Regions from separate parts of the Homo sapiens genome. Here region 2 is linked to region 1. Evidence: fine-mapped expression QTL. A gene starts in region 1. The other region holds a variant in brackets. All regions are shown on one strand. Distances are between the middles of the regions. Region 1 holds the start of NACC1 (nucleus accumbens associated 1). Region 2 overlaps NACC1 (nucleus accumbens associated 1).

Region 1 (5,509 bases):
AAAACTAATTTTCTCAGTTGACAGACAAGGAAACTGGGGCTCAAAGAGGCTAAGTCACTCACTCAAGGTCACAGAGTGAGAATGTGACAGAGCCAGAATTTGACCCCAGGCAGGCTTGTCCCAGAGCTAGGCTGTGATGCCCAGAACCTACCGGGCATCTGCTTGGCTCGGCTGTACCAGGTGGGCCACGTCATTGAGCTGGACATTCCGGCGTATGAGATCCACAGCCCGGGTGGAGGCATCGTTTGCAACCACAGATCTGAGCCCAGGCACCTCTAGGGCAAATCGAATGGAACGTAGGCCTGAAGCTGCCAGGCCTTCCAGCACATGCAGGCCTTCCTGTTGGAGTAAGCAGAAAACCTCCCTCACATCTCCACCTCCATCCTCTTCTGGGCCCCAAGGAGCCCCCACCACCCACCTCCTATAGCTCTCCCCCTCCAGGAGCCCTCTGTCTCCCGCTAAATTCCAGGGCTGCCAGCTCCTATGCTCAGGCCCCACCTCACAGATCTCCCCCACGGCCGCTGTGCGAGGTTGGTCTCCTGAGGCCAGGTTTTCACTCTCTTTCAGTTCAACCTTTTCCTCCTCTTGCTCTGACAAGTCCACGACCACTTTTTGCGTGTCCTTCTCTCCTGGAACCTTGACTGCAGCCACCCAGAGGCACAAGTCAGAGAATAACAAGGTCCCCTCTGAGAAACCTCCCCTTAATCTCCAAAATATCGTCCCTGAAATCCCTGCGGAAAGGCTGAAGGAGCAGAACCCAGGGCCTGCTATGTGGCTGAAGCCCCTCTGGATTTGGGCGGCAGAAGAGCCCAGGCAGGGAGATAAACTTGTGTGACCCCCGCCCACCAGAAGCCTGGACCTCCACTCACTCTGGATTCCTTTGGCCCCAAGCTGAATGCGAGCAAACTCGGTGATCACAGCACATCTGGTGGGAGACAGAGGACTAGCTCATACCCCGCCCCCGCCATCCACACTGACCCACTAGCCGATGCCAGGCTAACGTCTGACCCCTGCTCACGTCAGGTCCCGATTGAATTCCTGCACCGGGTTATAAAAGACCTCGTTGGCACTGGGAAAGGCGATTTTGGCAGCCCCCTCGGTGACTGTCGTCTCCTGGACTTCACGTGGACGTTCTTCTCCGTAGGGCCCGGTGCCGTTCTCCATCGCTGCTGTATTCGGCAGCCCTGGAGACTGCCACTCGAAAAACCGGGCTCTAGAGAGCACCCGGGCGGAGCGGAAAGTGAGGCTTAGCCACAGAGACGATCCTTGCATGAGACATCCGCTGGCGCCTCCGCCCGCCAAGCCTGGTTCGGGGGGCGGGGGAGGGCACAGAGAGGGTCAGAGAGCCGCATTCCGGGCCCGGGGATGTCCTACATATCTATGAGGTAGGGACTAGGAAAACCTGCGGCCTCGGTAAGCTGATATCCCCTCGTTTTGGGGATGACTGGTCCCTGTGGAGCCGATGCCCTCGTGCAGGCCCGCCCCGAGTCCGAATCCCTCCCCGCGCTGCCTAGCCCGTCCTCACCTGCTCTCGTAGCCACAGAAAACCGAATTAGTCAAGGTGCACGTTTCCCGAATTAGGACCTGGGCGCCGCCATGTTGGCACAGTGGGTGGGCGAATCACATGATAGTGGTTGGCCAGTCAATGAGGAAACGTACGGTGGGCGGCCGGGATCAAAATGAAAGCCATAAAGGAAGCGCGCTGATCGTGCTGTTCCGGGGGTGTTAATCACAGTGGATCCCCTGGGAGAGGACACGTCCCTAGTCCCATTTCACAGATGAGGAAGTTGTGGCTCAGAAAAGGGGCGGTAAGCGGAGAAACCCAACACTTATTGGTCCTCTTCTGTGTTCTGGGTGCTATATACACATTATTTCAGAGCACCCTGCAGGAATGACTCAGGCTCTGGAGTTGGATTTACCGGGTTTGAATCTCAGTCCCATCACATGCTCTGGGCAGGTTACTCCCGCGGCTTCACTTTTCTTACCTATTAAATGAGAATCGTGGTTTCTCAGATAGAGCAAAGATTAAATGACAGATTCCTGGAAAGTGTGCAAAGAACCACTCTAACATTGTAAGCGCTCGGTAAAGTTCTAACCAGTGTATGAAGGCAGGACAGCGAAGTGGTCCCGGCTACCTGGGTTCCAGTCTCAGCTCGCCCTGCGACTTGTTAACTCTGAACTTAAGTTACCGCTTTTGCAAAATGGGCAGAACTTTTTTTTACCATTTGTTACTGGGTTGTAGTGAGAAGTAAACGAGTTAGTGCAGGTAAAATGCTAACAGAACCTAGCATCCGGTAAGCATCATAAAAGTCTTAGGTCTTATTGTCGCTTTTGAGCCTGTGTTTAAATCCTGGCACCTACCATCACTTCCTTGCTGTGTGATGATCTTGACCAGCTTTCTTCATTTCTCTGTGCCTCCTTTTCTTTCTTTCTTTCTTTTTTTTTTTTTTTTGAGACGGAGTCTCGCCCAGGCTGGAGTGCAGTGGCATGATCTCGGCTCACTGCAACCACCGCCTCCCGGGTGCAAGCGATTCTTCTGCCTCAGTCTCCCGAGTAGCTGGGATTACAAGCGCATGCCATCACGCCCGGCTAATTTTTGTATTTTTAGTAGAGACAGAGTTTCACCATATTGGCCAGGCTGGTTTCGAACTCCTGACCTCAGGCGATCCACCCACCTCGGTCTCCCAAAGTGCTGGGATTACAGGCGTGAGACACCGCGCCCAGCTGCCTTTATTTTCTATAGTGTGTCTGTAGCAGTTCTCACTAAAAAATGTTACTGTGTAGTTTAAACGAGCTAATTCCCATAAAGAATGTAACGCAGTGCCTGCCACAATAAACAGCAGTCATTATTGTTTTTGTTTTACAGGAAACTAAAGTTCGGAAAGGTAGAGCGACTTGCCCAAGGTCGCGGGACTAGAAGGTGGCGGGGCCAGGATTCGAACCATCGAGCTGAGCCGACGTACTGGCGAGGATCCCCCAGGGGCATAGAGAGGAGACGGAGCCGGTTAGAAGGGGCGCGCTCGGAGCTCGGCTGGCCTCGCCTGGAGGGCGGGGCCCGAGGGCGGTGCGCGGGCGGGGCCGGGGCCGCTCCTCCCTGGCCTGGCTGCGGCGGCAGCGCGGCTTGCGCTCGCTCGGCGCTCGGCTGGGGCGGCCTGGCCCACAATGAATGGCCGCCGCGGCTGCCGCTGCTGCTGAGGCGGAGGCCGCGGAGGCCGCGGAGGCGGAGGCCGAGGCCCCGGCGCAGCGGGGCGCGCCCCGGGCCCAGGCCCGGCCCCAGCCGCCGCTGCGGAGCCCGCCGGGACCCCCCGGAGCGCGGCCACGGCGCAGGTGAGGCGGCCCGCCTCAGGCCCGGTTCCGGCCTCCTCCAGCCGGGGCGGCCCGAGGGCTGAGTGGGGAGGGCCTGGGTGCTTTCTCGGACCGAGGAGGAGCCGGGCCCGCAGCCTGCACTGTGCCCGGGCAGGCGAGTGTGTGGAGGCCCAGCTACCGCGGGCGGCCTTGAGCGTCCAGCCCGAGCTTCAGGGCTTGGGGGCGGCAGGATCGTACCTGGACCGCTCCCCCGTCTCCCAGCGAGGGAGGGGGCCAGGTCGGGCCGGGGCAGGTACCGGGGATCCGGGGAAGTTGGAGGGTCCGAGGCGGAAAAGTGAGGAGGTTCTCGTGGATGCCGGAGGGGGAGGGGGAGGGGGAGGAGGAGTCGGGCTCCGGCCAGGCCGAGTGGGGGAGGAGAGGAGAGCGGCGCGGCCGGAGGGGGGCGGGGAGGGGCCGGGCCTGCAGGTACCGCCTGGGCGCTGGAGGAGGTGGGTGGGTCAAGTTACAGGCCTGGGGGCGGCTGAGGAGAAGCCCAGGAAGTGGGGCACGGCGGGTGTGGGCGGAGTTACTTCGTGTGGGGGCGGATAGGAGATCCCAGAGATGTTTTCCGGGGGTCACATGAGGTCAGGACTCAGATGTGGGGAGGGGGAGGCTAGATGTGGGGGCGATCAGGTAAGGTGAGGGACTGCTGTAGGAGTTTTGGGAGTCGAGAGAGCAGAGCCTTTTGGGCTAGGCTAGGGGGGATGTGGGGGCAGGTCAGGAAAAGCTGGTGTGACCAGAAGGTATATACTAAGATGCGCCCCCCACCGCCCCCAACTCAAGTGTTAAGGGGTTCCGTCTTTCTCACACCTCATCCCTGAAGCCTCTAGAGTCCTGACCCTACCCCTTGGGCAAGCCTCTGCCAACTGTTCAAAGGCACTGGCCAGTGGGTGTTTGTGTGGGCAGCTGGAGACAGTCTGGAACACCTAGCTTAGGCATCTTGTTTATCACAAGGTGGCCCTTGCCCACCCCCACCTTATATATCTACAGGGAGGCAGCCCAGCAGACGTTACCTGGGTATTTTAGGATCCTGCATTCTTTCTCTACCTTTTGTGGCCAGAAGCTGGTGGTTCAAGCCTAGTGGATGGGACCTCACAGCAACCATCGTATATATTAGTACCATGGCCTCCCAGGCACCAACTCCTTGAGCCTGAGTTCTGTGTGCCATCTCCCTGGGGGTGAAGAATTAGAGGGAATGAGCATGTAAAACTCTGTTGATGGTGGTTTGGAGGCTCCCGACGGGGTGAAGGCAGGGCACAGAGAAGAGTTAAGGGGATCAAATCAGGCACTCACACCCTGGCCCAGGGATCTACCTCTGGGACACTCGTCCTGGGCCAGGCCCTGTGCCGAGCTCGCTGGTCGGATGAGCTCATTGATGGCTCACCACCACCAGTTCAACTTAGGCCTTCTCTGGGGTCCAGACGAGGAAGCTGAGGCTCGGGGTGGTGTGGCTTGTCTCAGATCACATGAGCAGACAGTGGCTGAACTGGGATTGTCTGACCCTCAGCCCAAACCCATAGTCACTCAAGTGGCCTTCCAGGAGGGTGACTGAAGGAGCTCCTCGTTCTGGATTCCCTGGCGGGCGTTCTCCTCCGTCCAGGCCTTCCCTTCTGCTCACCCCGGGGGATGGGTCAATCCCCTTTGGGACAGACTGAGTTTCCATGGTGTCCCCGGGGAATGGAACAGTGGAGGTATCTTTCTCGGAGGCCTGGTCACCCCTTCTTCCCCATTTCCCTCCTGGGAGCCAAGAGGTCAGGAGTCATGGAACTGTGGGCTGACCGTGGGAAGCTGAGGAGGCCTGGCACCACCAGGGCTGGACTTGACTTTGCTTGCCTAGACTGTTTTTGCCCCACTTTGGCCCCCAGTCGGATGGCAGCAGCTTTTGTTCCTTTCTGGGCTAATTGCAAGGCTGTTACCAGGGTGTCCTTGGGACTTTGATTTGGGATCTTCAGCACCTGAGGCAGGAGCCACAAACTGCTGGGTCAAGTGGTGTCAGCCAGTTCTGGGTTTAATGATGGGTTGTCACCCTAATTCTCCCCAGTCTCCCTATAGTTCCCAGGACACCCTCCAACCTGGGCCCTGCCCTTCTTGCCTGTCTGGCTAGCCACTTGGTTCTAGGAGGAGTAGGAACTGGGCCAGCAGTCCCGCAAAGAGACTGAACCAT
Region 2 (5,000 bases), 22 kb after region 1:
GCCACTCGTCATGGGGGGCATCTAGATTTTCAAGTGACCACTCCCCGTTACTAAATTCTGGCAAATGATCCGAATTTTTCAAGAACACGGGGCCATCCCATCAAAACCAACACATCCCCACACATGGCTGAACTCAGTCCGGTGTAGGGTTGGGTGCACGTAGTGTGGTGTCCTGGCCGCGTGGCCTCACTCGTTTCCCCTTTGAGAGGGAGTCGCAGATGCTGTAGGGGAGCTGGTGAGTAGGCCTTGTGGGAGTCACCTGGCCCCCGTGCCAAGGCCGCACCCACCCTGCCCCACAGACTACTGCCAGAACTTCGCCCCCAACTTCAAGGAGAGCGAGATGAATGCCATCGCGGCCGACATGTGCACCAACGCCCGCCGCGTCGTGCGCAAGAGCTGGATGCCCAAGGTCAAGGTGCTCAAGGCTGAGGATGACGCCTACACCACCTTCATCAGTGAAACGGGCAAGATCGAGCCGGACATGATGGGTGTGGAGCATGGCTTCGAGACCGCCAGCCACGAGGGCGAGGCGGGTCCCTCGGCTGAAGCCCTGCAGTAACCCGCCCAGCCTCCCGCGGGGCCACACACTTCCCCTCCCAACACACACACACACCTGCCATCTTGGTCATGAGCTACTGTCTGTCCCTCCCCAGGACCCGCGGTGGGTGCTGCATGTTCCCGGCCCTCTGCCCCTCCTGTCCTACCCCCTTTCCCCACCGAGAGCTGGGCCGGGAGAGGACCGCAGGGCAGGTGGCGTGAGGTCCGTGTTGCCTTCTTTAACACACACTCGTGCAGTGGGGGAGTTCTGGCTCCCCAACCTAACCCCTAGCCGTCATCTCCACACTCACCAGGCCCACCAGGGGAGGGGGCTGGCCTGGGGGTCTTGGGAAGGCCCCTCCCCAGGCCCTAGGCCACCTCGCGGAAGCCTTCAGCCTCCGCCCCTCACTGCAGCCCCTTGGGACTTGAGGGGGGCCCCAGGGGTTCTCAGGACCCCTCCCACCACCTCCCAGTGCTTCCACGTCTCCAAAAGCGCCTTCCTGTCACCCTCGTCTATCCCTGCGCCTGGGGGCTGGGGTAGGCGAGGCCGTGGGGACTACCCATTTTATAGCTGGGGAAACAGGCTCCGAGAAATTGCACAACCGACCTCAGGTGGCCGGCAGTGGCGTGCCTGGTGCCCTTTCTCCTCTTCCGCCTCTGTTGCTCCCTTTGGTCCTCTGGGGCCTCAGAGAGGCAGGTCCTAAAGGAGGGGGGGTCTCCTGGGGGCAGACCGAGGGTCTCGGAGGATAGAATGAGAGGTTTCCAGGGCTGGCAGAGTGTGTGCGTGTGTGTGTGCAGAAGTTTTGCTTTCAAACAAATGAAGATACAAGAGGCAGTAGGACCTGGGTTGGAACCCAGGGGAGCAGACTGGGGGGCTGTTGCCCCTCCCTCCATCTCCCCACACCCACCCCACCCCACAGCAGGGCTCCTGGCCCCCACCCCCCTGTACATAATTTTTAAAACCTTTTTTTAGCGAATGAAATATTGAAGTATAAGATTCCTTTTATTTTTCAAACCAATGGGGCTGTGTCTATTGTCCCCCTCGGTCCCCAGGGGTGGGGGGCCTTGGAAGGCAGGGCGGTGTTGGGGGGCTGGGGGGCAGGCTGAATGTGTGTGTGTGGGTGTGTATGTGTGGAGTGTGTGTGTGTGTTTCCATGGTAGGACTCCAGTCCCAGCTGCTGCCTAGGCTCCTGTGGGTCCTGTGGGTCCCCCTCCCCTGTTCACCTTCCCCAACAGGGCTATAGTTTAAGGGTGTCCCAGGCCTTGGCTGGTTGGCTGGGCCCAGCTCCTGGGGGCTGGGCAGGGCAGGGCAGGGCCGGGTCCACTTCCATTGTTAGCAGTTGTTTGCAGAATTTTCTCTTTTACCATTCCTCTCTTTTTGTTCTCGCCCAGAGTGGGTGGTTTTTTGTTGTTGTTTTAGATTTTCATGTGAAGGCAGTTTTTTTTCTTTTTTAACTCCCCATCCCCCTATGCAGGGTGTCATTTCACCATCCACATCCACATCCTTGTTTGTGTTTCTGGCCCTCGTCCTCCCTGCCTCTCATCTGCCTCCCCAACCCCCACCTACCCACTGCTCCCAGGGGTCTCTCCAGGGGCAGGGGGATTTTAGGAGATGGGGTGGGGGCCAGCCCCTACTGGACCCTTGTAATCTGATTTGGAGACCATCCCCCCGATGGGACCAGCAGCCCCGCCGGCCCACTGGGGGTCCCTCTTAACATCTGCTTGTTGCGGGGGTCAGTCATGAGTGCCAGGGTCTGGCTGGGGTCTTGGCACTGTCTTCCTGGCCGGGGCCTGAAACCTTAGCCCCCAGCCGGCCTGAGTGGGGGATATTGACACCCCCAGCTAAAGCACAAGCACCTTAGTCACCCCTCCTCTCCCCCCGCCTCCTGGCCTGCCACCCCACCCCAGCGTTTACCCCAAAGCACAATGCCCTGGTCACTTGGCAAGCGGCTGGGCCTGAC[G/A]GAGGCCGAGGGGCAGACCGGGGCTCCAGCCAGACCCCTGAAAGGAAGGTGCTCCCCCACTTCCAGGCCTTAGTTGGGGTGGGGGGGCCAGCTCCTGGGCCTGGGGTCTTCTCACCCCCACCCCCTTGTCCTGGGTAGGCCCCTGCCTGCCCCTCTCTGCCTTTTCCTCGGGTGTCCCTCCTCGAGCCCCTGTGGCATTGGCTTGGGTGGCAGAGCCCACTTGTTTCAGGGACCCCAGGAGGTGCCCCCTGGCTCCCAGGACTGTGTGTGGGTCCGGGGGGTGGGGGGGTGGGGAGAAGGGTCGGGCAGGGGGTGCAGGGGAGGAAACTCCTCACCAGGAGAGCCAAAGACAGGGTTGTGCCTTACCCCAGGAGCCACCCCTGTACCCCCCTTGCCCTGCCATTCACCCTCCACCCCTACCCCTGGGCGGCCTGCTGCTTTTTCCTTCTCTTCCTCCCCTGCCCTGAGCTGCATGGTTCCCCCACCCTGGGCAGCCAGGAAGGAATCTGAATGGAGAATCACCAACCACCAGAGAAAAAAGACTGTGGGGCCCTCCCCTGCCAACTCCCCTTCCCTGGCCGCCCACTCAACCCACACCTCTTTCACGCAGGACAGGCTGCCCACCCTGTCCACGTGAAGTGCCAACGCCCTCCCCACCCTGGGCCGAGCCCCCACCCCTCCCTGGGCCCCCAAGTGAGATTGCACATTTAACTACTGTAAGGAGAGGAGCGGCGTTGGCAAATGTGAACCATGAGAATATCAGTGATACTGATGAGAATAAACTAAACGCCTTTGTAACAGCCTTGCCGCATGCTCGTTACTTGGGGGCCCAGGGAGGAACACACACCTGCATTGTGCCCAGCAGACCCAGGTTGCTGACTGCAAACTGACAGCCTCCGATTCTAACACGCATGCAAGTTACCCCAACAGATACAGATAACGCAACATATGAGCTGGTCCTACACACACACACACACACACAATTTTTTTTTCTTTTTTTTTTTTTGAGATGGAATTTCACTCTGTCGCCCAGGCTAGAGTGGCGCGATCTCGGCTCACTGCAACCTCTGCTTCCTGGGTTCAAGCCATTCTGCCTTAGCCCCCCCAAATAGTGGGGATTGCAGGCACCCACCACCATGCCCGGCTAATTTTTGTATTTTTAGTAGAGACAGGGTTTCACCATGTTGGTCAGGCTGGGCTCGAACTCCTGACCTCAGGTGATCCACCCGCCTTGGCCTCCCCAAGTGCTGGGATTACAGGTGTGAGCCACCGCGCCCAGCATTTTCTTTTCTTTTTTTTTTTTGAGTCGGAGTTTCGCTCTTGTTGCCAGGCTGTAGTGTCATGGCGCGATCTCGGCTCACTGCAACCACCGCCTCCCAGGTTCAAATGATTGTCCTGCCTCAGCCTCCTGTGTAGCTGGGATTACAGGCATGCACCACCAGGTTCAGCTAATTTTATATTTTTAGTAGAGATGGGGTTTCTCCATGTTGGTCAGGCTGGTCTCCCAAAGTGCTGGGATTACAGGCATGAGCCACCACCACACCCAGCCTGAAAAAATACTTTTAATTAGCTGGGTGTGGTGGCATGCACCTGTACTCCCAGCTACTCTGGAGGCTGAGGCAGGAGAATCACTTCAACTGGGAAGGTCAAGGCTGCAGTGAGCTATGATGGCACCACTGCACTCCAGCATGGGCAAGAGTCAGATCCCATCTCAATAAAAAAAAAAAAGGGAGCTGTGGCTCTGTCAATTTTACAGCAACACTGGCTCACTCGGTGCCCGCCTGTGCCGTGGCTGATATGCCAAGCCCCAGAAACACATCCCATACACACACACTCCACGCCGCATTCAGAAGAGCATTCATGCATTAAAAGAACATAAAAGAGATCGGCAGGGCGCAGTGGCTCATGCCTGTAATCCCAGCACTTCGGGAGGCTGAGGCAGATGGATCACCTGAGGTCAGGAGTTCGAGACCAGCCTGGTCAACATGGCAAAACCCCATCTTTACTAAAAATAGAAAAGTTAGCTGGGCGTGGTGGAGTGCGCCTGTAATCTCAGCTACCCAGGAGGCTGAGGCAGGAGAATTGCTTGAACCTGGAAGGCGGAGGTTGCAGTGAGCCAAGATCGCACCATTGCACTCCAGCCTAGGTGACGAGCAAAACTTAGTCTCAAAAAAAAAAAAAAAAAAACGAGATCACAAAATTTAACCGATATTGGAAATATCTGGGTGAACAAGAGGGTCCCAAGAATATGAAAGGACAAATGGTTCTATCAAGTAGGAAAAACCATGGATGCACCGTGGGTCCCCATAGACTCAAAGATAACACAAGATTAAAGTAACTGGGCTGGGCACGGTGGCTCATGCCTGTAATCCCAGCATTTTGGGAGGCCGAGGCAGGTGGATCACCTGAGATCAGGAGTTCAAGACCAGCCTGGCCAACATGGCAAAACCACGTCTCTATTAAAAATACAAAAATTATCTGGGTGTGGTGGCGGGTGCCTGT

The links. PIP is the estimated chance that this variant, and not a neighbour inherited with it, causes the effect. A credible set is the group of variants that fine-mapping cannot tell apart.
Region 2: its variant is the best candidate, but not a certain one, in a credible set for the expression of NACC1 in fibroblasts (GTEx, PIP 0.69).

The regions. Positions count from the first base shown.
Region 1 is chr19:13,115,128-13,120,636 of GRCh38, forward strand. NACC1 (nucleus accumbens associated 1) reads left to right here and starts at 3,137. Exons shown (of 6, transcript NM_052876.4): 1 at 3,137-3,327. TRMT1 (tRNA methyltransferase 1) reads right to left here and starts at 1,613. Exons shown (of 17, transcript NM_001136035.4): 1 at 1,526-1,613; 2 at 1,019-1,304; 3 at 870-925; 4 at 499-641; 5 at 152-339. The coding sequence starts at 1,272. RefSeq lists enhancers at 1,607-1,796, 2,757-2,906, 4,182-4,683, 4,684-5,184 and silencers at 2,947-3,146, 3,697-3,746.
Region 2 is chr19:13,137,848-13,142,847 of GRCh38, forward strand. It overlaps NACC1 (nucleus accumbens associated 1), which reads left to right. Exons shown (of 6, transcript NM_052876.4): 6 at 300-3,300. The coding sequence ends at 559. Among named protein-coding and RNA genes, the nearest start is that of STX10, 10 kb to the right of the region's middle. RefSeq lists an enhancer at 1-31. The variant G/A (reference allele first, on the strand shown) is at 2,499.